Linked DNA regions of Homo sapiens. The protein of the gene in region 1 interacts with the protein of each later gene in a biochemical or structural test. Each region holds a gene or a part of one and is shown in the gene's direction. Other genes may lie near its edges.

Region 1 (8,418 bases):
TGTTGGCATGAAGGTAGTACAGGGACCTCTGGCAGCTGCTGACCAGCTGTTTGGGGATGATATTTACTGGCCTGCTCAACCAGGCCTCGATTATCTGAAGGTTAAGGGAGCAGGAAGATATCTTCCTTGCTGAGTGCTCCTGGCCAAGCAGGAGGCTTTGCTGTGACATAGGCTCTTATGCTGCTTCATTTCTAACTCTACCCTCATATGTCCATAAACCTAAGTTTGCTACCACTGATATTTCATCTGGATAATTTTGAAGGCTCTGCGTGTTTCTCTTCCTCATTCTTTTGACCTGAGGATTTAATTATTGCTCTTCTTAAAGACAAAGCCAAGATGCTGAAATGCTTGGGAAAGCTGCTGAGAGTGAGCCCTCCTGGGGTTTGAAGTTGTCCTAATGCTCATCAGAACATACCTCCCCAGCTGGAAAGATTCGAAAGCTTACTGGCCAGGAAGGTTTAGGTAACTAACCAAACACATAAGGTTTTTTACCCTTTAGACAGAACCAGAATGGGAACCAGATTGGCAATATGAAACACCTGAGTAACAGGATGTGGTATTTTAAAATTCTCCCTGGCACTGCTATGTAATTCCAAAGTTGAAGCTGTGCCGCTGAATTGCACAAAGGTTGGCCAAAATCATATTTAGGTGAAACAGATTTTTGTTTTGTTTTGTTTTGTTTTGTTTGAGACAGAGTCTCCCTCTGTTGCCCATGCTGGAGTACACTGGCATGAACTTGACCCACTGCAGCCTCTGCCTCCTGGGTTCAAGAGATTCTGTGACCTCAGTCTCCTGATTAGTTGGGATTAGAGGTACCCGCCACCATACCTGGATAATATTTTTTTTTTTTTTTTGTAGTAGTAGTAGAGACGGGGTTTCACCATGTTGGCCAGGCTGGTCTCGAACTCCTGACCTCAAGTGATCCACCCACCTCGGCCTCCCAAAGTGCTGGAATTACAGGCATGAGCCCACCACACCCGGCCAGATGAATCAGATTTAACACCAGATATGTGTCTTTAAAGGAGACCCAACTCATAATATCAGCATATCCTGACTGGATTAACTGGTGGAAATCAGAAGGAAAGCAGACTCCTCAGTCTTTACTTAAAGACAGAAAACAAGCAAATTCCTGGTTAGGGGAACAAATGATGACTGGTACGGACACAGAGGGCTAACATTCAACACTGGCTGCCTCCAACAGGGCACAATTGGATAGTAGTTGAGAACTACCTTCTGAAGTACCATTTCCTGGGTTCAAATCTTAGCTACAGGGTTGCAGGTTACATGGCCTTGGGCACATTCCATAACCTCTCTGTACTTCAGCTTGCTTATCTGGGGAGAATAATAGTACCTACCCCAGGATTGCTGGGAAGACAGCTAATCTAATATACTTGGAATACTTTTTCCCATCTGATTTTGAAGGTTTTGTTTGTTTGTTATTACTCCCCCCTGAACAACTGAATTAAGTGTCTTTGTGAAAACTGAAAGCAAATGGAAAATTTCTTCATGAAAATTGAATACCCTTCACCTACTTGAAAAAGGTTAATTATTCAAGCACTTGATTTTAATAAAGCCAGTGCGTTTGCTTGTGCTCATGCTAGAACAGACAGGGAGTTACTCTCTGTTTTCGTCCTGGAAGCCTGCACTTTGGTTTGGTCAGGCTGACCTCGCTGGTCTCAATTAAGTCCTCCCCACACCCTCTCAGACTCCTGACAGAGAAGGAGCAATCCTTCCCCCTGAAGTCAGCATTGTCACAGAAGGAAGTGGGAAGGGAGGGACCACCCGGATTAAACTGAATGACTAGGCTAGAAATAAAAATTCTTCCGAGTGTGTGCAGGCCCCATACTATCCTTGCCCACATAGCTGGGCAGGTTGCCATGGTTACTCCCCTTCCCGCATCCTTCTACCCTGGAAGGAAGCCTGCCTCTCTAGGGGAAGTAGAATCTGAACAAATTGCTTCCTGGTCTAAAAATGGAAGTTACTAAGTGAAGTAGAATCTCCTCTCTACTTATATCACCCCCTCCAAACTTATTTTAATCCCAATACTTAATTTTCTAACCTTCCTAGTTCTTGCATCATCTAGATAGCAAAACATGAAAGCTTATGAAATTTCTGGAACCTAAAAGTTACTACCTCAATATAGAAGCAGCCTGGCAAGTTTTCCCTACTACATTTGTACTAGCTAGCTAGGGGCAAGTGATTTTTAACTAAGTCAACTGGTAAAAATTCTAAGTGAATGGGGCAGGCTGAGTGAGTGTTACGTTGAAGGTAAACAATGTATGAGGGCTGTCACTTAGATTTTCAGGTAACCATAGAGTAAAGGGAGCAGGTAAATAGGAAGTAACAATCCTAGAATGCTGGATTTGAAGCACCTTTCAACCTAGAAGAAATCTGGATGAGGGAAATATGGTTTAATGTTGTCTCTTGGTAAAAAACTACCCTATTGCTACCTAGCAATATGATGCAAAATGTTAGTCCCAAAAAGACTTTGATCTTTATATGAAAGATGAGCTGCCATACACAAGTTTGCATTTGACAAATTAATTCAGTCTTTCAAAATTGGACATTTAGCTTGATGTGTATTTCACAGCTTGAGGGAACTCATCTAAGACAATAGTTCTCAGAGCTGATTCCCAAACCAGCAGCATCAACATCAGCTGGGGACCTGTCAGAACTGCAAACTCTGGAAGTAGGGCCCATCCAGCTGTATCTAAACTAGCTCTCCACCACGTGATCCAAGAGTAACTTTCATAATTCAGTGGTTTTAGGATTCACTTCTTCAGTGGAAATCATAACAAAGTATTTGAATTCCTTCAGTCATGGAGATAATAAAGCAAAAGCCTTTAAACACAGTGCAGTTTAACTGAATCTTAGGATGCAGAAAGATTAAAAAGCATGGGATTTGGATATTTTTCCCATATACCAAGTATGACTTTCTTGATCCTAGGAAATCCAATATACTTTTGGTTTGATATTATCACCTCACTTCCAAATCTTTTCCCCTCTGCTGGGGTTTTTAAAGAGTATAATTAATCTTCATTTATTAGGAGACTGTCCCACTTACTTCTTTTAAAAAGGATTCCAGTAAACTAGATCATTACCCTTGAACCAGATGGTTTTCTCTAACCTATAAAACTTTTTATTTTGTTTTTATGCCATGTCTAGAAGTGCAGATGAAGTCCTCTCCATAAATGAGTCTACTTCATTTAGTTTTTGTAAAGTTTAATGGCTAACGAAGCACTGCTCCTTTCTCCCATTCGACTTTCACTTTAAGTAACTTGAAATAGAAAAGATATCTCTATTTATTGGCTCCAATATGATGAGTATCTTGCCCAAGGTGTTATCATTAAGTGGTAGAGCCAGGATTCAATTATGAATCTTTATGATTTGCACCTTGGCGTTTATCTGAATACTTAGCAATTACCTACTATGTGAAGTCTGATGCTAGGTTAGCAATGGAAAATCTCCCAGTGAGCAGAAATCAAAACAAAAGTCTTCCTCATGTGTGGCAAAGGACATAGGATAGAGAGTTAAACAGACTTACATGTGAATGGCAGTGCTACCATTTCTTGGGCATGCTATTCAATGTCTCTGGCCCTTAGTTGTCTCACTTACCTTGCAAAAACAGTCCTAAGAATGCCTGATGTCAAACAGAGATCACATCTCAAACTGAAAAATACAAGGGTGTGATGTACAAGTATATAATTGGAACTCTGATTTTGAAAAGCCAACATAGATTCATGGTTAAGAGCTTGGGTTCTAAGCTGCAAATGACTGTGCCCACAGCCTAGCTTTGCCATGTAAGACAAGCTATATAAGGCCTGAGCTTCATTTCTCCATCAGGAAAATGAGTTGCCTCGATTTTAAAATTAAAAACTCTTCAGAACTCCTGCGGCTGCTTCTGAAATTTACCTGTCCTAGAAATGCAATTCTCAATGCAATAACTAAGCTGATATTTTTTAAATGGTCTTGTTCTCATTGTTTTTGAGTATCAGGCAAGCTAAATTCTAGAGATGCACACATTCAGGCTGAAAATTAGAAGACTGTCTTTCCTATATATCTTTAAACTATTAAATGTGAATAATCAAGGAGGAGAATGTGGCAATGCTTCATAAATCAGTAGAGGCACACAAATACTAACTTTAAGGTACCACTTAAACCTCATCTGAGCAGGGCAGTTAAGTCCTCTTAAGGTCTATAGTTAATCCATACCCAAAGAACTGGAAAGTGAATAACTTCATCCCTAATTGTGTCCATATTGAACACAGCTGCCCTCTCGGTTCTAAATATTGCATCCAAATGATCTCACTTATTTTTTTATATTTTAAGTGTCCTATTAGGGGGCCAAGACCTGGTCTAGTTTTCTGTAATATGTAATACAGATGCTAACGTGCTTTTTGTTACCATTTAGTGCAACAGAAATAAACCAAATGTGTTTGAACATATGTCAGAGGGCTGACATAATCATATGAAGAATGCTATACCAGTTTGGCTTTGGGACGAAATGTGAATCTACTAGGGCAACATACAACTGCCCTCTGAGTCAGAAGATCAGAAGTTGCTGTGGCTACACATAGTAGGTGCTCAAATATCCATCCTTTAAAGGGAAGGGTCAGCTGTGCTTTAGTTATATCAGCATTAGGTTTTGTTGTTGTTGTTACTTGATTTTGTTTTGTGTTGCTCCCTGCCCCCTTTACCTCTAAAATTAAGCGACTTAAATGCAATTCATTTTTGAAGTAGAAAAAACAAGTATGTAGCTGATAGAACAGGCTTTTCCATCAATTGTTGGTTGCTAGTAAGGAGGGTCAATATTGATTTCTGCCTGGGCTAAGGTTCAACTATAGCTGAGGCTTTTCAGAGAGCATACATGTACTAGAATTGAAATGATAGACAGTTATATTTAATGTCCACGCTGTCTTCTAAAGGATAGCTTGATGCAGAAATGCTTGCTTAACTGCCTGAAAACCTGTTCTTTGTGATTTCTGATTTGTCTAACTGGTCTGAAGTTCCCAATGACTAAAAGTTGATAGTAATTGAAAGTTGGGTGCAAATATTTACCTTAGAGGGACACATATATGACAAGAGCTGCCTATAAGATAGTTAGAGAAAATAGTAACTACTCAACTAACATATGATTTTATTGTAGTTAAGTGGTACAGAGTGTTGTGTGGATCCAGAGGGAGAAAAAGGCCATTGGTGTTAATGGATTTGGCTTTTAAAGGAACAATGGAAGTCAAATAAGCAAAGGTAAGAAGAGAAAATGCATTTTAGGCAGCAGCGCATATGCAAATCATGCAGTTGGATGAACTTAGGATATGCCTAAAGAACTCTGACTGGTCAGTTTGGCCAAGAAACAGTACAGGTGGCATAGGGCTGAGAAGTGTCTGAGTTTGAAAAGTAGGGATGAATTATACTGAGCCATGGATGTCAGGATAAGAATTTTGATTTTTTTTTTTTATTTTTATACTTTAGATTCTGGGGTACATGTGGAGAACATGCAGTTTTGTTACATAGGTATACATGTGCCATGGTGGTTTGCTGCATCCATCAACCCATCACCTACATTAGGTATTTCTCCTAATGCTATCCCTCCCCTTACCCCCCAACCAGGCGCCGGTGTGTGATGTTCCCCTCCCTGTGTTGATGTGTTCTCATTATTCAACTCCCACTTACAAATGAGAATATGCGGTGTTTGCCAAGCAGATCCGTCATTAAAGCAGGAAAACCAAATGCTGATTGGGATAACTTAACCTGGCTCTATTGGCAGAATGTGTTTGAGTGGAGATTGCTTAGTAGTTGAAGAAAAGCCTATATTTCTTCAAAAATCATCAAAGTAGAGAAAAGGGTTGCTTAACCTAAGATTAAGGTGCAAAAAGAAATATTTATTACCCCTAATGTTTTAAGCGCACTGCTCATTAACAGACTGTGTCGAGCCTAGAAAAGTAGGGCAAATAATTTTCGGATCCCAAAAGCTTTATTGAATTGAGAGAAGAGCTCTACATGAATCAGAGGGCAATGATAGGTCATGGCAAATGTGAGGAAATGGCTGGTAAGAGGCCGGTAAAGACTTCCCTGAGACCACACATCTTGAGTGGCCTTGGAATGAAGGTTTTCACGAAATTCAAGAAGGTGAAGGCAGTACATATTACAGGCTAGCAGACCACATAAGAAGGTCTGGTGTGTCTATGTGTCTGTTTAGGGGAAACAGAAGACAACGGCCTCTTCAGAGAGCAGGTGGCCATGTATATGTATAGTCCACAGCCTGATTAGAAGGGCTTTGAATCTCAGCTTGAATGTGAATGGAGGAATTGAACACCGATACCTGATTAATTCAAAATCAGGAAAGCTAGGAGGCCAGTAAACACTCCTACAAAAATTTAGCCATAAAGGGAGATCAGTTACAACCAGAGTCTCTTACACCTTAGATTCTCACTGAAGCCCTTTGGAGAAAATGGAAGAAAGAGCTCATCCCATAAAGAGTTGTTTGTTTGTTTGTTTTTCACTTCAAGTGTTTTAAATATATTAAGGAGTACTTATGCTATGTGTGTAGAAAAGATCAACAAACACCATAATATAAGTCCGCTAATCATGAGGGACATGTATGATACAACGTGGTATAGCTTTTTAGGGAGGAGGAACTCAGGGTGGCGGTGAGGCAAGGTTGAGGAAAAATGCTGGAACTAAGTAAAAAAAAAAATATGATGGGGAGGGAGGAGAGGTGTGAAAATAAAGGGTAATTATGAAAAGTAGACTTTCAGAGGTTTGACTCATTCATTAAACATGAACAGTTTAGGATAAAATCTTAGCTTCATTCTAAGCTGCAGACAGTACTGTTGTGGATCTTTTAGGTATATCTGCATACGAAGTACATTCTGTAATGCTGTTCCCACTTAGTGTATAGTGATGCAAATGTTCAGTTTTCTGCACAAGAACTCTTTCATAGAAACAGTGGGCACAACCATGTTCTGTGTTAGGATCTGGACTCTTACACTTCATGCGGCCAACATTTGTGGAGGGCTCACTACTTGTATTGATCATGAAGTCCATTTCCTTGAAGACTGACATTGACCAAGTGCTGCCTGGTAGCCCCTTGATAATGCTCTTGTGACTTGGTAGTGCTCTTTAAATAACTAAAGCAAGCTGTAGGGACCCTTGGTTACATTTTCATAAGATTGTTTCACTGAAATCTGAGGTTCAATGTTTGGCCTGATCTGAAAGTGACACGTTGTATTCTTAGAAAATCTGGTAATTAAAAGTGCCACAGAACATGTCTGGTTCTAGAATACAGAAGTTCCCTGAATTGCTTGTACTTCTTAAGTGAATGCCAGACTGAATGCCAAATGAGCATAGTGTTTCCTTCTGGTGTTTATGAAGATAGTGTTGATTCAGAACTTTGGATCTTATGATAACTCTGAAGGAAACATCACTGAAATTCTTCAATACCCTCAGGTATAACAGAATTGCTTCCTTCTGTTACTGCCATACAGATGGTCCTTCAGATTGTAACGTGGTTATAGGAGACTCATAAATATTAAATGTAAATATCCCCTCAATTTGTGTCATAATTTAAAAATTGTTGAAGAGGGTTATTAACCCTTCAGACAACATTTGCATCTTTCCATAATTGATATCAATACAGCAATTTATATATAATTCCTTGATGTAATACTACTTTTTCTTCCTTTTATGAAGTATTATTAACAGCAATGAAGCTTTCTACCCTAATCAGAAACAATTCCTCCAAAACACATAGCATCAGTTATAACTGTGACCTGCTTGTTCTTTCTCCCCTACCTAACCTCTAAGCCCCTTTAGAGTAGAGACCATGTCTATTTTGTCACTCTATACATAGGATAATGCAGTGCTTGGCAAATAGTAGGTGTTTAATAAACAATAACCAGATGGCCAGGTGAGTGAGTAACTCAAGCCACTTTCATTTACAACATCAATTGCAATTTATTATAGAGTGAGCAAAATGGAAAACTTTAGCTTGCCTTATCATCTGTTGGTATAAGTAAAACAATTCTGACCACCCCCCCCCCTTTTTTTAACTTTAAGGTTATTTATAATGAGCAATATCCATATGTTCTTCTAGTTTATATCTGCTCAGGGCCTGAGGAAGGCAGACAAGCTGTTACTGAAATTCTCCAGATGGTGTGGTCTTTCCAAGTTGCTAGTTTAACTTCTACCAATGGAGTATTCATCATTGCTCATATATCTGTCTGACCTGATGGATGTAATCACCTGGCTAATAAGAATTGTGGTGAATAGATTTCAGCCTGATACTTTATCCACAAACAACTTCTTATTCTCCTTCTGTTTCTCCTTTTAAAAGTGTCCACCAAATTGTTTATAAAATTACTAATAAAATTTGAGAAAATAGGTAAGACCTTTGGCTTAGCACTGGATAATTAAGGC
Region 2 (7,000 bases), on another chromosome or scaffold:
TGCTTTATTCTTTTAAATATGTCATATCCCATCATATGGTTGTAACATAATCAATTGAGATTTTAGTTTTTTTCTGGTTTTTTTTCTATTACCAACAGTGACCCAGAGGACATCTGGACATTGTCCACATGCATATCTTTGCCCACAAGTGTGAAAAATCATAGAATAGATTTACCGAGCCAAAGGGATATTTCCAAATTGCCATCCAAAATTGTTACACTGGCTTACTTTTCTGCTAAGAATGCATCTGTGTGTTTTCCTACACTGTCATCAGCTCTGAGTACTAGTTGTTATCTTATACCTTTGCCAGTCAAATGGGTTAAAATTCAATCTGACTGTCTGTAAAGGCCATCTTTCCTGTGAGATTACTTTAAAATAAAAATTCACTGGTTTAAAAAGTCTTAGAGTTTGTTTTAATTTAAATTTTTGGCTAGCAGGAATTTATTTTGGTGTAAGAAGTGAGACAAGGATCTAGTGTTGTTTTTGTTTTCCAAATGGCTTGCCGTTTGTCATAATACTATTTATTGAATAATCTTACTTTCTCCGTTGATTTGAATAGTCCCAGAGACTGAAATCTAGGTCTTGTAAATAAAAGTCCTGGCATCACTTATAGCTCAGCCTTTCCCTGCCTATCTCACACTTTTTCTGACCTGAAAAGCTCACATTGACTCAAGACTCAGATTAACCACTTACTAGAGTTATACTGAAAATAGATATTTATCCAATAGACTAATCATCCCAGTAGTCTAGTTGCTTTGAGAAGTGAGTGAAAGGCAGTCTTTATAGTGAAACAGTGAGCTCTTCTTTCTTTTCCATTTGCCTTATGCACTGATGATAACTTGGGAATGTATCTACTTTTTGGAGTTTCTTTCAGGAATTTTGTTCTAAAATTCACCTCAGGCCTTTGAAAGTGGTTTAATGCAGGGCTTTGCCTTATATACTGTGTTTGTGACACAGAGTCTTCTAACAGAAAAAAAGATACAAACTAGACTTGATCTTTCCTTAGTTTTGTTTTGTTTTGTTTTGATACAGTGTCTCACTTTGTCACCCAGGCTGGAATACAGTGTCCTGCAAGGCTCACTGCAGCCTCCACCTCCTTTGGCTCAGATGATCCTCCTGTCTCAGCCCCCTGAGTAGCTGAGACTGCAGGCATGCACTAGCATGCCTGGCTGATTTCTCTATTTTTTTTTTTTTTTTTTGTAGAGATGGGGTTTTGCCATGTTGCCCAGGCTGGTCTTGAACTCCTAGGCTCAAGCAGTTTGCCTGGCGTGGCCTCCCAAAGTACTGGGATTATAGGCATGAGCCACTGCACCCAGTTAGACTTGATCTGTCTAGAGACCAATAATTTGCCTCTAGAAAAGAGTCTTATTGGGTTTACAGGAAATTTGACTATAGTAGTTTTAGGTGGTGGATAAGTTGGGACATAATGAGCATAAATATTTTCCTATATAATATTTAGTTGCTGATAATTCTCATAAATTGCCCGTTTCTAAACAGTATCTTACAAAAATGATCATTCACAAATTATTTTGGACTTCCGAACAGTGATTGACAGTGCTTTGTGCTTGTTCGTGAATCTAGGGATGGTGTCTGTTTTGGACTTGATGCAGGGTGGTTACCCATCACGAGCTTCATTTCATGAACTCTACAACATGTACAAAAAGTATATGCCAGATAAACTTGCAAGATTGGATCCAAGACTATTTTGTAAGGTATAAATGCCACCCAAATTGAAATTTCTTAGCTATGAACTTGTCTTTTCTATTAATAATTGACATTTAACTTTTTAACTTTTATTTTTCAGGCTTTGTTTAAAGCTTTGGGCTTAAATGAAAATGACTACAAGTTTGGGTTAACCAAAGTATTTTTTAGACCTGGCAAGGTAAATATACATTTTTTACTTTAAACTGTAACATCATGAAAACAAATAGTTGGGGTTAGTGAATATCTTAAAGTATTTAATAATTTGTATTATTCTTGAATTATATGGTCACTAACAACATGAATTGCTATTTTCCATACCATTTCTCAGAAAAGAAAAAAAAGTTGAGAGGAAGATAATTATATATAATGTTCATAATTTGTTTAGCTTTACTCATACATATTTATTCTAAACTCCCCATTTATTTTAGAGCACAGGTGTCCAGTCTTTTGGCTTCCCTGAGCCACATTGGAAGAAGAACAGTTGTCCTGGGCCACACATAAAATACACCAACACTAATGATAGCTGATGAGCTAAATAAACAAAACAATTGCAATAAAAATCTCATAATGTTTTAAGAAAGTTTATGAGTTTGTGTTGGGCCTCATTCAAAGCTGTCCTGGGCCACATGTGGCCCATGGACTACAGCGTGGACAATCTTGTCTTAGAGCTTTAATAATTATTTGAGAACTAATAGTCTCATAGAGAAAGCACTTTTTCTTGTTTAAACTCCTGAAAAATTAGAAATATTTATTGAAAGCTTAAGACAAAGATTTAAATATCTTTTCTCTCGTTATGTTACCTTTAATTTAATTTTGACTATAAGAAGCCGTTATATTGGTTGATGGGTTTTTGACATTCTTAATATTATAGTGGGTTATTTGGTAAAGGATTGAAATCATTATGGAATTTTGTGGTATATAGTGGAAATAATGTATTTTATTAGTTAAGAACCTACTAGCTGTTTTATTTGTGTTGTCTGTCACTTAGTAGCAAAAATTTCTCATCTCTGTTTAAAATGGAAATGGGGGTTGGGCGCTGTGGCTCACGCCTATAATCCCAGCACTTTGGGAGGCTGAAGCAGTGGGATTGCTTGGTTCCAGGAGTTTGAGACCAGCTTGGGCAACATGGCAAAACCTCATCTCTACAAAAAAATACAAAAATTAGCCGGGTGTGGTGGTGCGTGCCTGTAATCTCAGCTACTTGGGTGGCTGAGGTGGGGAGGATTGCCTGAGCCTGGGAAGTTGAGGCTGCAGTGAACCAAGATTGCGCCACTGCAAAAAAGGTTGGGGGTGGGTAATGGGAGTTAGGAGAGACAGAATAATTTTGGCGGTACCTGGTATTATATAGCTAATATGCACTTATCAAAAGCTCCATAAGGATATCTGAGAATGTGGGTGAGCCAATTCAGAGATACAGTAGTCCTTTTTCATTCTTTTCTTAATAAAGTCTTCTCGCTAGCCATCTGTAATTTAAAAGTCATCCCCCCCCCCCACTTTTGTTATTGAATATGCTACCTAGCATTAAGTAACCTCCTTACCTCCAAAAAAGCTCCTGAAGAAAGAAAGGAAGCAAAACGTGGCCAAGTGTGTTTGTGTTTGTTGTATTCTCTGCCAAGGCCTATGTAATTGACATGTGACCATTTTCAGACAGTTAGATTTTGGATTTGAATTCTGTTTACATCATGTCTTTATGTGTTCAAATGCATTTATATTTTAATACTGATACTAAATTATTTCACTTCCTAGTTTGCAGAATTTGATCAGATCATGAAGTCTGACCCTGACCACTTAGCAGAGTTGGTTAAAAGAGTCAATCACTGGCTCACATGCAGTCGCTGGAAGAAAGTTCAGTGGTGCTCACTCTCAGTCATCAAATGTAGGTGTTTTCCTTTACACCTATAGGATCTTTCATTGTTTCAAGATGGTTTGTGGAGTGTTGTAAAGCTGTCTCAGAGGTGATGCTGAGCAACAGAGACTGAGACTTGTTCACACTGGGTCCCAGGTTCCTATTTGTAGATGTTCTTTCTTTTTTTATTTTTTGAGTGTATGATATTTATTTTCTTTATTCAAATGTGTTATAAGAGTGTCAGTTTCATAGTGTCCTAACAAAACAGAATTCACTATCTTGATCTCTCGTCCCCGCACCCCTCACCATCCCCTAATCTCTCAGACTTAAACCAGAACTTTTCTTTCTGCCTGCATGGCATCTACAATACACATACCCCGAAAATTCTAATTGTAATTGATTTTCCTTTCTTATCCCTGAAATATTGTCAGTCACCAGATCCTGTTGATTCCTTCTCCAAATACTGTACATTCCTTTCTTTTTCTTGCCAGTGCCTTAGTGAAGTCCTTTTCCACCTTTTGCATAATAATTCCATTAGCTCCCAGACTGGTTTTCCTGGTTTCTTAGAGATATCTCTCTAAACTAGAAGCCTTTTATAACTTTCCTTTCATAAAAGGTGAAGTCTAAATTATTTGATGTCTTTCAAGATCATGTAAAATGGTGTGTCAGTTTTTTGTTTCAGTCTCTTCCCCCACCATCCCCTCTTAAATCCTGTTTTTTGAACGGAAGTCTGTCATAATCCTGAAAGACACTGTCTTGAACACCATAATCCCAAATGTTGAAATCTTAAAAGATGAAAGTCCCAAAACTAGGATTCTGTAAAAATAATAAAAAAAGATATTTATTTACATTTTAAAAAGGGGATTTGAGAAACGTATAAAAACATGACAGAACTCTTCATAGGCCACTTTTCACAATAAAATAGGCAATAACATATATATAGGCAATAAACATATATGTTTATTGAAACTATAAACACATATACTAACAATAGTTGCATGGGTATAACAGGAGCAGACAAACCGTATTCATAAAGAATAGGGCGAAAGGTGAAATGCATAAACACATATTATTGTGGTTGGTAATTGTGCACCCAGCTTTGTTACTGCAGTCATCTGAAATACTGTGATGATGAACAAGCTGTCTTTTGATGAGATCAGTCAAAAACCATAGTGAGTCACCACTGCATTTGTAGTTGCCCAGAGAACTGAAATCTTGAGAAATTTTATCTTTTACAAGTGCAGATGTATGATAAAGGACATCTGTTCATTGATTAAGTTTCAGTGTTTTTATATACATACACAATGTTTACCCAGAAAGTAAATGTTGTGGTAATGCATTTTCATGGAGTTAAATTTGCAAAAAATGAATACAGTAAATTAGAACTCTCCAAAAATTTCTACATAATTAAAAAATGCTAACAATTTAAGATAGTGAAAATAAAAACAAAGAAAAAAAAAACACCCAAAACTAAAAAGGAAGTTTGACATAAAAAAAAGTGTATCACAGGGACAGATTATAGGCAGTTGCATGGAGATAGTCCATAGAGCTGGCTGTCTTTCTCAGTCATTAACTATATTTTGAAGTCTTGTACCACGAATAATAGGTGCTTTTTTTCTTTTAGGACATGGTTCTTGGAGAATATGTTCATATTCATTTTCTTCATGAGATTGCTCTTTTTGGAATTCTTCTGTGATTCCTCTGATTGGGATTTTTAGGATTTTTGATGTTAGGGATTTTAATCTAGGAATTTTGATCTTTTGGGATTTCAACATTTGGGATTATGGCTTTTGGGATTAGGAATTCAAACCCCTTTGACATACTGGGCTAAGCTGCTTTTATGTGTGGTTTGGCCAGGTCATAGCAGCTACATAGCTGGCCCAAGACAAAAGTGAGGGACAGAACATTTTGGGGTTACCTAAGGATCTGTGGCAAACCTTTAATTGTTGGGAGCTGTGTAGGAATCAGTAACTTGATTACATTTACAGTTGCCCCTTATACTCATCAGAGTACCTGAAATAGTGCTAGGTACATGAAAAGGATCCAGCGAATTTTTCCTTATCAGTAGAAAAGGAAAATTCTTTTGGCCTAATGAAAAAGAATCATGCTAACAAAGATTATTTTTGAGGTATTTTGTTAGACAATTGTGAATATAGATAAAAAGAGAACTATTAATATAAAAAGAAAAAAGATAGCAGAATCTTTTCCCCATCATTTTCCAAATAAAATACAGAAACATCTTTATTACTGTAGTTTAATACGTTCAGCTTTACACATTGCATTATGATAGGAAACACATTATAGTAAACTCATCTGTTACACCATTCATTTGTGGACTGTGTTCTACAGTGGTACCGAAGTCAGTAACCGGGCAGGGATCTTTGCAGAATGTTAATAGGAAACTCTGAAAAAAAAGTTCAAGGTCAGATCATCCTAGGAAATTGTGAGTAACTGAAGTTAAGTAGATTTCTTTGCTGTAGGATTCTCAGAGGCTTCACTCAGTATGTTCATTGTGAACCTCCATACAGAAGTATAGTGTACAGCTTTTCATAAACTCATTTGACAGGTAAATCCTTTTTTCAGGACATACCTATTCACATTTCATAGAACAAATGTTGCCTAAGACAGTTTGGGAGGTAGCAGTGTAGCATACTAAGGAAATAATGCATTTAAAATGTAAGCCTAACCAGATACATGATATTGTAACTGCCCAGTGGGTTCTCCTTGCCCACTACCCAGACAGAGCTGATTTATCAAGATAGGAATTGCAGTAGAGAGACAGTAATTAATGTAGAGTCGGCTGTACGGGACACTGGAGTTTTATGATTACTCAAATCAGTCTCTCTGAAAACTCGGAGATCTGAATTTTTAAGGATAATTTGGTAGGTAGGGGCTTGGGTTGGAGATGAAATCATAGGGGGTCAAAATTGAGTTTTTCTTGCTTGCTTCTGTTCCTGTGTGGGAGCACAGAACTGGCTGGGCCGGATTACCTATCTAGGTGGCATCAGCTGGTGCATTGGAAGGTCTGCAAAATATCTGGAGCACTGATTTTAGGTGTTACAACTGTGATGTTATACCTGGGAGCAATTTGAGGAGGTTCAGATTCATGCAGCTGGAGGCTGTGTGGCTCCTAAACCGTAATTTCTAATCTTGGAGCTAATTTGTTAGTCCTACAAAGGCTGACTGGTTCCCCAGGCAAGAAGGGGGTTTATTTTGGGAAAGGGTTATTATCATGTTTGTTTCAAAGTTAAACTTTAATAAACTAAGTTCTTTCCCAAGATTAGTTCGGCCTACACCCAGGAATGAACAAGGACAGCTTAGAGGTTAGAAGCAAGATGGAGTTGGTTAGGTCAGATCTCTTTTACATAATTTCCTTGGTTGTAATTTTTGCAAAGGCAAAATTACATCTTTCAACATCTTTTTATTTTTAAGAAGAATAAGAAATTATAG
Region 3 (8,418 bases), about 34 Mb from region 1:
GTGTTGTGCTTCAGGGTGAAAAATATCAGCAGACTAGAGCAGATTCTTCCAAATGCACAGCTTGTGTTCAGGTTTGTGTACTTTTTGTTTTGAAGGTTGAAATTTCGTTTTAAGATTTTCTTTCCTGCTGTGCACAGTGGCTCACGCCTGTAATCCCAGCAGTTTGGGAGGCTGAGGCAGGTGGATTGCTTGAGCCCAGTTGTTCAAAACCAGCCTGAGCAATGTGGCAAAACCCCATCTCTACCAAAAAAACAAAAAACAAAAAACAAGAACAAAAATTAGCTGGGCATGATGGTGCGTTCCTGTAGTCCCAGCTACTCAGGAGGCTGAGGTGGGAGAATCGCTTGAGCCTAGGAGGCAGAGGTTGCAGTGAGCCAAGATCGTGTCACTGCACTCCAGCCTTGGTGACAGAGCTAGACCCTGTCTCAAAAAAAAATGTTTTCCCCCTTCTTCTTTGAAATAATAATATTCAATTTGAAAACCATACCAAAATTATTCTTACTAAACACCTTTCTGCTGTCTTTTTATTTTGTTTTCAGTGGTGCTAATAGTTATTTTAAGATTCTTTTCTCTCTCTCCATCTTATCTTTCAAGCAAGCTTCTCCTGTGTTCCATTCTTCATCCCCTGATCTAATTTTCCTTCATCCCACCTCTTGGTTTATTTCTACTAGTTTTTCCTGTGTCACCAAATTACTACACAGAGGCAAAACATAAAGATAAGTCAATAAAATAACAAATATATTTTTTATATATGTAGTGATCCATCACAATGTGATTCCAACACAAAAGATTTTTGGATGAACATGCAAGCTGTTACAGTCTACCTCAAGAAGCTGTCAGAGCAAAATCCAGCTGCTTCTTATTATAATGTAGATGTATTAAAGTATCAGGTGAGTGTCACGACATTGCAAAAATTCTAAATTAAAATATTAAAAAATGGAATCTAGCATATAAATGAATAAGTATGTCATAGCCAAGTGAGTTTTTTCCCAGAAATTCAAGGATGTTTTGAAATTAGAAAATCTGTTTATAAGCCAGTGGAGATTTTGACCAGTTTGGTAAAATTCACCATTTATTCATGATTAAAATACTGAGTAAATTTAAATGCATAAATTTGTCCTTAAGCTGAAAAGACTAGCAGTATCAGTCTTAACAATGAAACTCCCAAAGTAATCAATTAAAGTTAGGAATGGCAAAGATGCCCATTAGTAGATCCTGTTAGTATATAAGAGTTTTCTGGATGTGTTAGCCAGTACAGTCAGGTAAGAGAACAAAATAAGCATTAATAAATACTGGGAAAGAGGAATCAAAATTATTATTGCTTACAGGTGATATATTCCTCTCACGAGAACCAATTGAAGAACTATTTGACATAAGGACATTTAATATAGGTGGTCAGTTTAGTAATTAATACCAAAATTAATAACTTTCAAAACCAATTACAAAAACTAGTGGAGAAAAATATTCACAAAGAACAATTAGGAAGAAACACAACACAATCTCTAGTGACTTGAATATGGAAAGATTCATGCTGTAGAAGTTTAGCTGTTTCTCAGTTAACTTATACATCTAATATAATACTGATCAGAAACCCAGTAGAGTTACGTCTTTGTGTTTGGAGGCTTGACAATCATTTTCACGTTTCTCTAGAAGAATAAAGCTTACAAGAATAAGTCAAGAATTTTTTATTTTAAAGAGATGGAGTCCCATTCTCTTGCTCAGAATGGAGTAGAGTAGCATGATCACATTTCACTGCAGCCTCAAACTCCTGGGCTCAAGCAGTCTTCCAGCCTTAGCCTCCCGAGTGACTGGGACTAAAGGCACAAACCACCGCTCCTGGCAAGAAATGTTTTAAACAGTAAAGTGGAGTAATGTTTTAGCTTTAATGGGAAAGCTTAGTATAGACAGTATTTAAAATAGTTTGGAACTAACGCAGCAGTAGATGGCCAGATGAAGGAATAGATTAGAGTATCCAGAAATAGATCTAAGAATAAATGGAAAATTGTTTATACGACATAGTAGCATTTCAAGGCAATGTGGACGTGATGAATTTTTCAAAAAATGATGTTGAGGATAGCAAGCTAGACACTTGAGAAAAAAATTAAGGTGAATCCCTGTTAGACTTTTAGCCAAAGTAAAATCCATGTGTATCAAAGGTTTAATAATAATAATAAAAGATACCATACCATAAAGGTACTAAAATAAAGGCATGGGTGAAGATACAGTTGACCCTTAAACAAAAAGGATCTATAAACTATGCAGGTCCACTTATACGAGGATTCTTTTTAACCAAACACCAATTGAAAATGCAATGATTGTGGATGCAAAACTCATGTATAAACAGAGGGCCAACTTTTTCTATATGTGGGTCCCACAGGGCCAACTATGTTTCTTGAGTATGCACAGATTAGTATATACACAGGGGTCCTGGAACCCACCCTCCCAAGTATGCTGAGGAACAACTGTATATGTATTTCTCTGTGTGTGTATATATGTAATACATATTTATTACATATTTTAATCTTGAAGTACAGAAGACCTAAGTATGATATGAAACCCAGAAGCCATGTAAGAAGAGAATGAGATATTTGATAAATAAATGTGTGTGTTTATAAAATATTTTGTTAAACCTTTAAACACAATCAGTATTTAATCTGTGGGAAAAGTATTTACGACACATAAGATGAACCACAGGGCTTACCCCAAAGAGCCCTTGTAAATTTGTAAGCAACATGTGAATAACTCAATAGACAAATAACCTATGGAAAGATGCTTCATGTCAGTAGTAATGAGAGCAGTCAATACTAAGATAACAATGAGGTGTCAGTTTTAGCCCATCAGATTTACAAAAATGAAAGTTCGCTTTATCCAGTATTAAGAAGGTTATGATCACTTGTTAATAGGATGCAAGTAAAACCTCTTAGAAGGCAATTCTGTTAGATTGTTGAAAGATGTAACCTTTAATTCAACAATTCCACTTCCAGAAATCATCAGAAATACACAGTTGGATGAAGATAAGGCATAAAGGATATTCGCTGTAGCATTGTTTAGAAAGCACCTAAGTACATACACATCAGCAGAGGAGGAAATTAATTACTATAGCCATTAAAAAGAATGACATGGATCTATGTTTGCATATGCCTGAAGAGTCTGGAAGGATATATGCCAGGATTCCAAGGGATAAATTTCCTACTTTATATTTCTCTATTTTTTTAGTTTTTAATAGGGTAATTTTATTAAAATGGCTTGTTTCTAGAAAAATACTTAAAGAACAAAAAAGTGCTGCCACTTAAATTGACTTAAAGTTTCTTACAGGTGTTCATTTATTCAACAGATGTGTATTATTCAGTGCATGTAATTGCTGGGAGTAGGACAGGGAGACAGTAAAGATCAGTAATATTCTATGGGCTGGACTTTGTTGCTCTGGTCTATAATCCCAGTACTTTGAGAGGCTGAGGCGAGAAGATTGCTTGAGCCCAGGAGTTCAAGACCAGTCTGGGCAATAAAAAGAAACCCCATCTCTACAAAAAATGTAAAATTCTCTGGGTGTGATGGCACAAGCCTGTAGTCCTAGCTAGTACAGAGGCTGAGGAGGGAGGATTGCTCGAGCCCAGGAGGTTGAGGCTGCAGTGAGCCATGAGCATGCCACTACACTCCAGCCTGGGCAACAGAGTGAGACCCTGCCTCAAAATAATAATCATAATATTCTATGTTAGAAAATGAGTGGTATGGAAAAAAGAAAAAGTATAGACTAAGGTAAGGAAGATTGAAAATACAGTTTTCAGTGTAAATTTAAACAGAGCAGTCAGAGTAGGTCTCCTTAAAAAGGAGCCATTGGACAAGGAGCTTAAGAATTTGAAGGAATTATAACATTTACTGTGAGTCATGTGATTAAACATTTGAAGTTGGAAGCATTCTAATTCCAACTTGTGGTACTACGTGGTGACCTTTTTTCTCGTGTTCTAAATCTGAATTCTTATAATGTATGAAGAATCTTTGAATTCTGTGTTGAATGTTGGAAGATTCGCAAACTTTACACGCATAATTAAGAATTCCTTCATAAAATGCTGATTTCTGGGCCCTGTCCCTAAGCTGTTGAATCAGATTTTCTGCAGTTGGAGCTAAGGGAATGTGTGTTATAAACAAGCACCACAGCAATTTTGATGTAAGTAGTAGTAGGTCCCCACATTGAGAATGATCCTTACTCCTTTGAGATAGGTCTGCTTCACTCTGCCAACAGATAGTCCCCTCATTAGATATTTTTGATTTTGTGGACTTACATGTTCAAGTGTCCATGTCATTAACATGACTTCTTAACTTTTCAGGCCAAAAACAATTGTTTGTTCTTTTCTCTTTAAAGGTATCATCAAATGGTATTCAGTCCACTCCTCTGAATCTTGCAACATACTGGAAATGTAGTGCTAGCACCACAGATCTTAGAGTGGATTATAAATACAATCCAGAAGCTATGGTGGCACCTAGTGTGCTTTCCAACATACAGGTGGTGGTACCAGTGGATGGAGGAGTAACGAACATGCAGTCCCTTCCCCCTGCAATATGGTAAATTAAACATACGTTTCTGAATTCCCACTAAATTTTTGTTGCAATCCCCAACTTCTAGAACCCAAGTTCTGTAAGTTTTCTTAGAAGTTTGAAAAATTTTTGTGCCTTTTTCCATAGAAACCACGCTGTAAAAGATGCAGTTCATTTTACTAGTCAAACCATAGTAACCTTAATCAAAAATAAACAAAACTAGTTTTGCTCTAAGTACCACCCAGACTTCAATGATTCCATACTAACTTTACCATTAGGCAGAGTGCTTGACCTCTCTAAACTTCTTTTTTTTTTTTTTTCATTTAAAAAATACAAATATTTTATGGATTAAATATAGCATCTGGCAAGTCTATAGGAACAGGAACACCTATCTAATTAGTGTTTAATAGTATTAGTTACTGCCATCTCTTAGCAACTTCTCCTGTCCCCTCTGTTAGTATTAGTATAGACTCTAACCGCTCTTTATAGTTACTTCATCATTTAATAACATGTGTCTTCCTTGACTAATGAAGGTACTGATCCCTATACACATTCCATTTTACTTTCTCTGACCAATAGGAATGAGAAGAATTACATAATTTGGTAAACTTCCATTAATTGAAAAAGATACAGCATTATGTTTATACTATATCATAAACACATTTTCACCAGTTAATACTACTTAAACTTAGCAATATATTTGTTGTAGTGAAAATATTTAAAATACACTTATTTATTGAGGTCCCATTCATGTATCAGGTACTATACTAGACACAAAACCTGAAGATATCTGTTCTTATTGCAGGAATGCAGAACAAATGAAAGCCTTTTGGAAATTGTCTAGTATTTCAGAAAAATCAGAAAATGGAGGTAAGTGTGTGTGTCCTTTTTTATTTATAAAATGATGTCACTGAAAATTGATTTTTTTTTTTTTTTTAAAACAGAGTCTAGCTTTGTTGCCAGGCTGGAGTGCAGTAACACAATCTCAGCTCACTGCAACCTCCGCCTGCTGGGTTCAAGCGATTCTCCTGCCTCAGACTCCTGAGTAGCTGGGATTACAGGCACGTGCCACCACACCCAACTAATTTTTGTTTGTTTGTTTTTTTTTTTAGTAGAAACAGGGTTTCACTATGTTACCCAGGATGGTCTCGATCTCCTGACCTCGTGATCTGCCCACCTCGGCCTCCCAAAGTGCTGGGATTACAGGCGTGAGCCACTGCGCCTGGCCATGGGTGCACCGTTCCTGGAAGCACTGCAATACCTTTTTTAAGGGAAAGTTTATGTAAAGTTTCCTCCTGGAATTTCATGCCCTCAGTTCTAGAAATGACCACTAGGTGGAAGTTAATACCTTTAGAATGGACCAGCTGAGATTCAGAACACATTTGTTCATCTAGATTGAGTATGTGTTCTCTATAAGAAAAAATTTATTTTGCCATAACTTTATAAATATTATGTAAATACTTCTTATATTTACATGCTAACATTAAGAAACTATACCTAGTAAATTTAAAGAAATAGAACTCTATGTTCCATGTAGGTAACCTGATAACTAATTGAAACTGATTTAACACAGTTTAGTTCATTCTGTTAACGGGATTCTCCTGACCTCCCAGAAATCATGTAGACGCTTCCAGGCTTTAAAAAGCCCCTTGCCGTCCCGGCACAGTGGCTCACGCTTGTAATCCCAGCACTTTGGTAGGCCGAGGTGGGTGGATCACTTGAAGTCAGGAGTTCAAGACCAGCCTGGCCAACATGGTGAAACCCCATCTGTTTTAAAAATACAAAAATTAGCTGGGCGTCATGGTGCACGCCTGTAATTCCAGCTATTCAGGGGACTTAAGCATGAGAATCACTTGAACCCAAGGAGGCGGAGGTTGCAGTGAGCTGAGATGGTGCCCCTGCTCTCCAGCCTGGGTGACAGAGTGAGACTCTGTCTCAAAAAAAAAAAAAAAAAAAAGCCCCCTTGCCTTCTGCAGTTCTCTAAAAGAACCTTTTTCCTGTCCATTTCCCCCTATTAAAGCTAACTATCAGCAGCATTCAATTTTCTGATGATTATTTTAAGGAGAAGCAAGTTATGCTTCTCTCACTAAGTACATCTGTTTGTGTTCATAATGCCAAGGAAAAGGCTGTCCTAGCTGATCACTTCTATAACTCAACTTACAATAAGGATGTAATTCTTGGGACAGCCAAGTCTTTAACATAGTCTTATTTTCTCTTAATCAAAAGAGAATTCTTCTGCCTTCTTTTGAATGCATAATTTTAGTCTACAATAACTTTTCTGCTTGTTTTTTTAGGGTTTGGTTTTGTTTTGTTTTGTTTTGTTTTTTTGAGACAGAGCCTTGCTCTGTTGCCCACTCTGGAGTGCAGCGGCATGATCTTGGCTCACTGCAACCTCTGCCTCCCAGGTTCAAGCAATTCTCCTGCCTCAGCCTCCCGAGTAGCTGGGATTACAGGCACCTACCACCACATCCAGCTAATTTTTGTATTTTTAGTAGAGACAGGGTTTCGCCATGTTGGCCAGGCTGGTCTTGAACTCCTGACCTCAGTTGATCTGCCAGCCTCAGCCTCCCAAAGTGCTGGGATTACAGGCATGAGCCACCATGCTCAGCCTAGTCTCCAATAACTCCTCTATTTGATAGGTTTTTTGGCTTTTCAAATGTTGCTGAGCTTTTTCTTTTTGAATATTTTGAGCATAATATAAAACATATCAGTAGCTTTTCTCATAGATATTTCTGTAGAAAGGACCGTAAATATGTCTGTGTTGTTTATTCATTTACACCTGCCATGCAGAATAAGACTTTTACTGGAGAGCCATACATTGGGTGAAATAACCAAGCAAATCTTCAGTTTCTTTTTTGCTGTTTGGTACTTATAGGTTGCCCACTTTCAGCTGGCCAACTGCATTGACTTTAACCCTAGCTATTAATATATAGCTTTTTGTGAGCCAAGCTGAAATTCCTAGTTTAAATTGAAGTAAACCAGCAATCCTGTTTGCATTAAGGGCTTATAACCAGTTTAGAAGGACAAAAGGATCTTTTTCCCCAATATAATGAAACTATACTATTGTAAATAATTAACAAGAAAGAAATTTGTTCTCTCAAAAATAAGACACAGGCTGGGTGCAGTGGCTCATGCCTGTAATCCCAGCACTTTGGGAGGCCAAGGCAGGTAGATCGTGAGGTCAAGAGATCGAGACCATCCTGGCCAACATGGTGAAACCCTGTCTCTACTAAAAATACAAAAATTAGCTGGATGTAGTGGCACGTGCCTGTAGTGTCAGCTACTCGGGAGGCTGAGGCAGGAGAATTGTTTGAACACGGGAGGTGGAGGTTGCAGTGAGCCAACATCGCACCACTGCCCTCCAGCCTGGCGCAGAGACTCCGTCTCAAAAAATAAAAAAATGAGATACAAATTTTCTAACCAGATTTTAAGTTTCCCTCTGCTATTCAGGTATCAGGTGTTTCTGTGAGGAAATGGAAAAATCTTATAAATGTGGTTTTTGATGTGGTTAGTCAAGCCTTTGAAAAGAATATCCAAGGCCAGGCATGGTGGCTCATTCCTGCAATCCCAGCACTTTGGGAGGCTGAGGCAGGTGGATCACTTGAGGCCAGGAGTTGGAGACCAGCCTAGACAATGTGGCAAAACCCTGCCTCTACTAAAAATACAAAAATTAACCAAGTGTGGTGGCACGTGCCTGTAGTCCCAGTTACTCAGGAGGCTGAGGCACGAGTCTAGCTTGAACCTGGGAGGCAGAGGTTTCAGTGAGCCAAGATTGCACCACTGTATTCCAGCTTGGGCCTTAGAGGGAGACTCTGTCTCAAAAAATAAATAAATAAATAAATAAATAAATAAATAAATAAATAAATAAATAAGAATGCTGTAAAA
Region 4 (8,418 bases), on another chromosome or scaffold:
AGCAGCTGCTCTTCTCTCTGCATTGGGTCAGGGGCAAGGAAAAAGCAGAAAATGTTCCCATTCACCACCGCAGGGGGGCCAGACCCCAAAAGGCTGAGCCACACAGAGTGGCCCTCGGCAAGGGTTGGAAATTTCGGGGACAGAATGCAGCTTCCTCCAAACAAGTATAGGTAGGGGTTGAGACCCAGGATCCACAGTGTGACATGGCTGCCCCCCAAAGGGGGCAGACCCACCTGGGTGCGGTTCTGGGCTCCATCTTTTGAAGGATTTTAAAACCTTGACAGGTCATCTTCAAAGAGCCAGGGATGTTGACTGAGTCTGGGAAAGAGAAAGTAGGGACAGATTCTCATATGTCTGAGGGACTGTCCCAAATGAGAAAGGCATCCCATGGCAGAAATTGTCCCAGACACGTGGGCCAGAGCTAGGGAGCAGGTGGGTCCCAGGGAAGTGAATCTGAGCTCATTATAGGGAAACCATGAATGTACTCATTTTCTTGATTTAGAAAATAACAAAACAGCGCTACAGGAAATTTAGAAAATGAAACAAAAATCACCCACTATTTCTTCAGCAGGCAGTGACTGTGTTAGCATTTTGGAGTTCACTGCCAGTCTTTTCCCCATCCTTTTCCTTCATTGTCGTTGTCACTGGAGTGTGTGTGCCGTGACACCTTTTTTCATTTAATACTGCGTCTGTGGGCATTTTCTCATGGTGCTACGCGGTCTAAGTAACGTTGCTTCTAAAAAGCTACAGAACATTCTAGGCTGGCCTGCTGCAGCGCCATCACCCATACACTGGAGCGTGTGCATTTTTCCCCTCTGTTGCTGTTGTGGTTGTCGTTACTATGAGTCCCAAAAGCAGCCAGGGTGTTGGAGGGCACAAGCAACTTGGCACCCAACTGAATGTGGGTTCCAGGCCCAGACATGCCACTTAGGCCCAGGGTAGAGGGACCTTAGACAGGTCACTGACCTGCTGAGCCTCGTTGATATAAATAACAGGATGGTAACACCTACTTCAGAGGAAGGTGTAAGGACAGTGTCAACTAACTAACCAAGGGACTCTAAAGTGCCTGGCACAGCCCTTTCTTCACTCCCTCTGTGAGTAGGATTGGCATTGTTGAAGGAGTGCCCACTGCTGGCTGCCTCAACCTGTGGGGAAGGTGCCTGAGCCACGGGCCAATGTTGACTGACCACTCACCTGGCAAAGAGGTGGTCTCCGCCTGAGGAGCCCCTGTGAAACCCCCTGGCCCTGAGGTTCTAGAATACTATGGCCAGTGCCCTTGCCTGCCTTCCCTTCTCCCCATTACCATATGATTGGCTGGCCTAGGACATGGGGCTGGCCCTGGGAAGATGGGCTGCTGGTTAGGGTCCGGGACCTGACTCCACCCATTCCCCTTCCGGTCTCCCAGCATCAGAGCTAAATAGACAAGGCCTCTTCTCTCTCTCTCTCTCTCTTTTTTTTTTTTGTGTGTGTGTGTGTGTGTGTGTGTGTGTGAGATGGAGTTTTGCTCTTGTTGCCCAGTCTGGAGTGCAATGGCGCGATCTTGGCTCACCACAACCTCCGGCTCCCGGTTTAAGCGATTCTCCTGCCTCAGCCTTCCAAGTTGGGATTAGAGGCATGTGCCATCACGCCTGGCTAATTTTGTATTTTTAGTAGCGATGGGGTTTCTCCGTGTTGGTCAGGCTGGTCTCAAACTCCTGACCTCAGGTGATCCACCCACCTCGGCCTCCTGAAGTGCTGGGATTATAGGCGTGAGCCACTGCGCCTCTTCTGTAAGAGCCTGGCTGCCTCCTGCCTCCCAGCTCTGGCTAGGTCAGCCCAGCTTGGCATTTTCCCAGAGGAAATAGAGGCCTGCTTAGCCTGAGACTTAGACAAGGAACCCAGGCATCCTGAGCCCCAGCCCAAGAACAGCCATGCCAGCCTCATCTTCGCACCCTGTTCCAGTAGCCAAGGAAGGGAAAGAAGCTGGGAGATTAAGGGTAGGGGGATTCTGGAGCCTCCCAGAGCTTCCCAGGAGGGAGTTGGACACATCGGGAAACTCATGTTAGCCTCCCCCTCCTCAGCAGGTGTTCCCCAGGTCTAACCTGAGTGTGTATCACTGTGACACACCTGCTTCCTCTTGTTCTACTTTTGTGGAGACCAGGGTAACTGGGAGTGCCCTCCTACAGCCACCCCGTGGGCAGTAGCAGGACACCAGTCTCCTCCTGGCAACCCTGGGCCTAAGAGACTGTAGCCCCAGATGACCCTAGGGTGGCCCAGGACTAACCTAAGGAAGGGGTCCTCCCCCAGGTGGCCCATTCAGTGCAGAGGTCCCTTGGGCACACGACTTCAGACTCCAGCTGCCAAACTTTGGCCTGTGGAGTATCTCCTCCTCCCTGGTCTTAGTGTAAGGGAAGTGGGCATGACAACTGCCCTCCTGTCCCACAGCTTGGGATGGGATGAGGTCACAGGGTGGGGTCCGCCCCAAGATGCTGGCCTGGCCTGGCTCAGATGAGAGCCCTTTGGGTGTTTCTCAGTTTCCCCCGCCCTTGGTTGGGGACAGGATGGGTGGAGGAGCAGGCCACCCCCAACGCCCGGCAGGGAGCACTGCCTCCCTTCCCCCTCTCCTCTGGGTCCCTTCATCCAAGGGCTGGAAATAGAATCCGCTAAGTAATGATTAAAGTCAAATTCAGACCTAAAAATAAAGAGCTGGTGAAGGAAGAGCTGGTGCTCCCTGCATGGCTGAGGGGAGAAGTGAGCAGGGAGAGGCTGGCTTTGGGTGGCTGAGCCCCTGCTCCTCGGGATCAGAAGTACTCCACCAGTTGGGGGGGTGCTCTTTTATCTGCCATGATGTGGCCCATTAAGTGTAGACGGCACCACTCAGGGCAGACTGGCAGGACCCATTAGAAAAAAAATCCCATTTTTCCCATGGGGAAACTGAGGCCCAGAAAGGAGAAGTGGTTTGTCAAGCGACTATTTGAGAGCTCCCCTCAGCAGGCCCCCAGGGACTGGAGGGCCCTGTGCAGCCCAGCCTGCCCTTTCTGCCTGCTCAGTTTCTCTTCCTGGTTTTGAGGTGCTAAGATGAAGTCAGCTTCTCATCACACACTAGCTGTGCACACACCCTCCAACCGCAGCTTCCCTCCACCCCTCCTTCTGTGGTCTGGGCCCAGAGTCGAAGGAACAAGTAGAAGAGAGGCTGCTTGGTGCCCCCCTGGCTGTCCTGATCATGGCATGGTTGTAAGCCTCGTGGGCAGGCGAAAACCTGGGCATCATCTGCCCCCCTTGGACCCTGGCTGCTGCTTCTCAGCCCAGCCTGACACCTGGTCCTCATGCAGACTCGCGCATCTATCTATCTGCAGCTTGTGCTGTCCGTGCTGCAGGGAGACAGGAGGGAAGGATGAAGAGCAAACCCTGAGAGCGCCTCTGCTGGCGGGTAGAGGAGACGAGGAGTCAGTGAGGGGAGGCCTGTGGTTCTCACTTCCTGGCAGAGCTGGTAGGAGCTCTGAAGCTGGGGCTCTGCGTGGGCTGGGGCAGCCTGGAGGGCCTCCTGGAGGGGAAGGTCCTGTGAAAGTTGAGAAGTGTTTGAAGAAGAAGCGTGGTAGGAGGAGAGGTCCTTGTTTGAAGCTTCTGCCCTCTCTAGGGCTGCTGGCTCTTTTCTGTGTGTCCCTCGACAGGCTCTTGGCCTCTCTGAGAGGCTGGGGTATGCAGACAAGCAAGAAGTGGGCACAGAAGTACCTCTGCTTCCCAGAGCAGAACAGCCAAGCTCTGGGCAGACCTCCCCTCGGTGCCCCCCACCTGTCCATTTTCAGGGTGTCGTCTGTCCTGCACAAGGAAAGGTGGGAAGAAAGGTCCCCTAACCAAGGTTCAGACAACTCTGAGCTCAAGTACCCACACAGCTAGTTCCTCCTCTGTCAGAGATCACCAGTCCTTGCCCTATGGGGTGTTTGAAGGATTAAGTAACTAATGCAGTGCCCCAAACCCGGTTGGGTCAGTCAGCTGTAATTCCCGTGTTCTCATTCTGCAGCCCATCCTGCTGGAGGAGTGTACTGGTAACACCCCCATCTCCCTTAAGTAGTAGCAAGTCTGTCCTTTGTGTTGATCCCCACAGCTTTACCTTCTGAGCTGTGTGTTCTGCAGATCCTGGTTCTGAAGTGGGGAGACCAGAAATCTGGGGGCCGAAGTTTTAGACAGCTTATGGGCCTCCAGCCGTCAGTCTCCCCACCTAGAATGTGGCCAGGAGACTTCCGGGTGAGGGACAAGAACATGACTTTGAAGGGTCCATTGAAGGCTAGTGCTGAGAGGCTATATGCAAATGCAGGCAAATGAAGATGCAAAGACCACATCCTGTGCTAAGGGGGTGGGGGAGCAGAGGCCTGGGTTAGGGCCCTGGGGAGGCCCAGAGTCCCCATTGCCCAGCGCACATAGGTAATTAGGCTCCTGAGCGGTAATTAGAAACCTTTCTGGGCCAGGAATGGCAGCCTCAAGCCGCAGCGGTGCCTGGGGAGTAGGCTCCCCATTAGCCTGCTCTAACCCCAGCCCCCACCTCTCCCAAACCACTAGACGGGATTTCCGGTCCCACTGAACCATTGGGGGCAGGGGAAAAAAAGCCAGTGTGTTGCTATAATTTGGTATTTATCCATTAAATCCGCCCTTCTCCTTAGGTCAGGGTGCTGACGGGAGCCCCGGGATGGGGGTAGGGCAGCGTGCCCTGGAGCCAGAGCAGGCATTCTTCTGTTCCTTCGTAACCGCCCCGGGAGGTGTAGGCATCTCCAAGACCCTGGCGCCCAATTCTGCTGCTGCTCACCCTGAGACACCTGTGCAGTGGGGGTGCTGAGGGACCACCAGCGCAGGCTGCGGGGGTCAGTGGAAGCCCTCGGGCACCCTTCCTTGCCTGATGTGTGGTGGGGAATGTCACAGTGCCTCAGCCTGGTGTCCTCTGCAGAACCAGAGGTGGAGCTGATTTTATTGCTGCCAAACTTGCCCAACTGCTGGTGGGTGCCCCGCCCTCCTCAGGTGCACTGCCCTTTGGAGGGGCGGGCCCAAATCTGAAACTTAATTCTGCCTGTATCTGTACTATGACCTGTAGGCCCTGCTCGGAGGTTCCCTGGGCCCCCATCCTGAACCTTCTTCAGTCTTCATTAACTCGCTCTGTACCACAGTTTGCAGTCTTAATCCTGGTTTACTTCAAGGCGCCCCTCTCTCAGTCACTTTCCCCTAAAATCCTTCTAGCTCCTGCTCCCCTCACCCATCTTCCTGGAAGCCTTCCCGGGTGGCCCCTGTCTCACAATCTATTGAGGCACTGAACATACCAGGCCATGGCTGACCATCCAGTAACCAGGAGGACAGGAGCCGGGTCTGCATTTTGTGGTGGTTCCCAGCATCCAGCCCTGGCTTGTGCACAGAGGAGAGGTGTGTGAGTGGTGACCTTGGGTCCCCAAAGGCAGGACCTCTTGAGTCCTTTCCTTCTCCACCCGGATATCCTGGCCTACCAAGCATGGCTCTGGGCACACAGGAAGGCTTCTAAAACACTGGCTCAAAGAATGAGAAGGCAAGGTGGACCTTGCTGTTGCCTGTTTTGCCTCCAGTGGCTGTCCCCATCCCCCAGAGCATCCAGCTAGGTCCTGTGGCAGCACCAGAATCTCCGGGGGCCAGGGCCCTGAGTTCCCCCAGGTCTTTTGTGCACTTCCCTTTTCAGTGGGTATTTTTAGCTGGGCGTAAACAGTTACTGAAGGCTCCCACGCCCCATTAGGCAGCAGAGTTTTGGCAAGGGGGAAGGGCAAGGGAGCCCCTTGACCTCCCCTGGCCCTCAGCACGTGCCTGGCCTTGGGGGTCTACAGCTGCTTCCAGGGTAGGAAAAGGGCAGCCTGGGAGTTTCTGGGCTCCCAGTTCTTTCTCCCCACTCCTTGTCAGCCTGGGCTCACAAGAAAGGCTGCCTGAGGCTGCAGCCACTGACCTCAGCGCTTGGGCACAATGCCAGCCTGTTCCCGGGACCCCAGCACAAGGGCTGCTGGGAGCCGGGTTTAGGGCAGGAAGTCAGAGTGAAGCACTGGTCCTGCCACATCCCAAGCCCCTTGTCCCCTAGCCCTGCGGGAATGGGGTGACAGCTGCTGTCCCTTTGGGGTTAACTATAGTCCTATTGGTTATGAGACCTCGGTGTGGTACAGCCAGCCTGGCGTCCCCTTTTTTTCATTCGTTCATTCATTCATTCATTCAGCACTCATTTACTGAGCAGCCGCTTTGGGCCCAGCCCATGCAGACGTGAGTCAGACCCTCACTTTCCCCCTGCAGAGCTCCCAGTCCACCCTAAACCACAGGCCACAACCAGTGAGGTTCTCACTGGAGCACGGGGATGTGTGAGAGGCCTTGGAGGCCTCGGCAGCCAACACAGCTGGGGACCCAAGGAATTCTCCAGAGAGAGGTGATTTACAAAAAGTTTCTTATTTCCAGTTTTAAGGGGGAAGGTAATAGATGCATGTGGCTTTAAAAAAATAATAATAATTTTTTTAAAAGCCCAAAAGGACAAAATAGCAAATGAACAGTAAAAAGTAAGTTTCTCTTGAACTTGATCTCACTTTCCCTTCTCATCCTAGAGGCAACCTCTGTTACCAGTTTCCTCTGTCTTTCCAAAGATAATCGAGGCATATTTGAGTTTAGGGAGGTGTTGCATTAATACCTCTTTAAAAACACAACTTGTAGTATTCCATAGAGAACCTGCACCTGGCTTTTTTTTTCACAGCCTTTTATTTTGAGTATTTGAAACCTACCAAAAAGTTGAAGTAATAGTATAATGAATATTCATATATCCTTCATGCAGATTTGCCAGTTCTTAACATTTTGCCACATTTACTCTATCTCTTCTTTTATCTACATAGACATATGTGTGTATGTATTTTTTGCTGATTTGAGTGTTAGTTGTAGGCATTGCATCTTTCACCCTAAGAACTTTAGCGTGTATCTCTTATATAATCACAATGTCATGATCACACTTAAGAAAATTGACATTAATTCCATATTATCTACTATGTCCATTTCCCCTCTCCCCAAGTGATTTTTATAGCTGTCCCCCCGACCACCCCTTGATATAGAATTCAATTCAAGATCATTTATTGAATCTTGTCATGTTTCTCTAGTGTCCTGTTCAATCTAGAACATTCTCCAGCCCTTTTTTTGTTTTGCTCTTTTATGACATTGACATGAAGAGTCCGGGCCAGTTGTTCTGGATTTGTCTGATTGCTTCTCCCTGGTTGGAGTCAGGTGGAACAGCTCTGGCAGGAACGCCCCCCCGGGCAATGCAGAGTCCTCCTCCAGGAGGCACTTAGTGTCCATGCGTCACCTTGCTGGTGATGCTTCACTGGATCACTTGGTTCCGGGGTTGTCCGCACGTCTCCCTGTAGTGCAGGTGCTCCTTCCTGTTTCCAATTAGCCTGTGGGATGGGACTTGGAAGCTGTGTCTGTTCTGCTCCCCTGGCAACTTTTTCTTCAATGACTTGAGCTGGTGTTTTGCCATTTTCCATACTCTATCATGGGGAGTGTTCAGTATCGGCATCTAGAGATCTCCCCTGGCCCCATCACAGCTAGAGCTATGCTGTCCCCTTTCAGGGACATCTTGTAATTTATCCACCCAGCCCCCAACTGATGGACATAAAGGCTGTCTCCCCATCATCTCCTGCTACTACAGACAGCACTGCAGGGACTGTCCTGCTGTGTTTTTTTAAGGCATGGGTACTCCAGAAGCAGTTGCTCAGCTGCACCCCCAAGGTTGAGTGGAAGTCCCTCGGTAAAGGAGGAGGAGAGAGTGTGAAGGGAATGGCAAGGCGGGGAGGGAGACAGGGCACAGGTGTCCTGGCAACAGCAGATGGGAAACAGGTCTGGCTAAGGTACCAGAAGCCAACAAGTCCCAGAAAGGTCAAGTGACTTTCCCAAGGTCACACAGCAAGTTGATGGCAGAGCTGGGTACAGGACTCAGAGCATCTGACACCCAGGACGATGTTCCTGCACTGTTCCATAGAGTAGCCCGACTCTTAAGTTTAAATAACCCCAGGAAGGACCCCCTCTCTGTGCCTGACCCCCGCTGGGTTGTAGAGGCCTAAGTTTGCAGTAGCTCCTCCCAGCCACTCTGGCTGTCAGCCTCTGACCTGCAGTGGGAGGGTCTCACCTTCTGGAGATGTTTTAAGGAGGGGACCCCGGCCTAGGCACTAGCTGGGAAGCCACTGAGCCATCTTGTCTGCGGCCACTGACGTCAGTGCTTGGGCACAATGCCAGCCTGTTCCCGGGACCCCAGCACAAGGGCTACTGGGAGCCGGGTTTGGGGCAGGAAGTCAGCGTGAAGCACTGGTCCTGCCACATCCCAAGCCCCTTGTCCCCTAGCTCTGTGGGGGTGGGGTGACAGCTGCTATCGCTTTGGGGTTAACTATAGTCCCTTTGGGGTTAACTATAGTCCCA

Evidence for each region.
Region 2: the proteins of DAB2 (region 1) and MYO6 form a complex in vitro, tested with the Homo sapiens proteins (7 studies listed by BioGRID).
Region 3: the proteins of DAB2 (region 1) and FCHO2 form a complex in vitro, tested with the Homo sapiens proteins (2 studies listed by BioGRID).
Region 4: the proteins of DAB2 (region 1) and CSK form a complex in vitro, tested with the Homo sapiens proteins (one study listed by BioGRID).

What each region holds. Positions count from the first base shown.
Region 1 is NC_000005.10:39,414,339-39,422,756, reverse strand, and holds part of DAB2 (disabled homolog 2), read left to right. Parts: intron 1-8,418. UniProt on the Homo sapiens protein: Adapter protein that functions as a clathrin-associated sorting protein (CLASP) required for clathrin-mediated endocytosis of selected cargo proteins.
Region 2 is NC_000006.12:75,878,239-75,885,238, forward strand, and holds part of MYO6 (unconventional myosin-VI), read left to right. Parts: intron 1-1,581; coding exon 1,582-1,712; intron 1,713-1,804; coding exon 1,805-1,882; intron 1,883-3,450; coding exon 3,451-3,580; intron 3,581-7,000. UniProt on the Homo sapiens protein: Myosins are actin-based motor molecules with ATPase activity. Unconventional myosins serve in intracellular movements. Myosin 6 is a reverse-direction motor protein that moves towards the minus-end of actin filaments.
Region 3 is NC_000005.10:73,077,423-73,085,840, forward strand, and holds part of FCHO2 (F-BAR domain only protein 2), read left to right. Parts: coding exon 1-71; intron 72-757; coding exon 758-890; intron 891-4,360; coding exon 4,361-4,560; intron 4,561-5,338; coding exon 5,339-5,403; intron 5,404-8,418. UniProt on the Homo sapiens protein: Functions in an early step of clathrin-mediated endocytosis. Has both a membrane binding/bending activity and the ability to recruit proteins essential to the formation of functional clathrin-coated pits.
Region 4 is NC_000015.10:74,784,553-74,792,970, forward strand, and holds part of CSK (tyrosine-protein kinase CSK), read left to right. Parts: intron 1-3,991; exon of another isoform or gene 3,992-4,025; intron 4,026-4,119; exon of another isoform or gene 4,120-4,205; intron 4,206-6,264; exon of another isoform or gene 6,265-6,394; intron 6,395-8,418. UniProt on the Homo sapiens protein: Non-receptor tyrosine-protein kinase that plays an important role in the regulation of cell growth, differentiation, migration and immune response.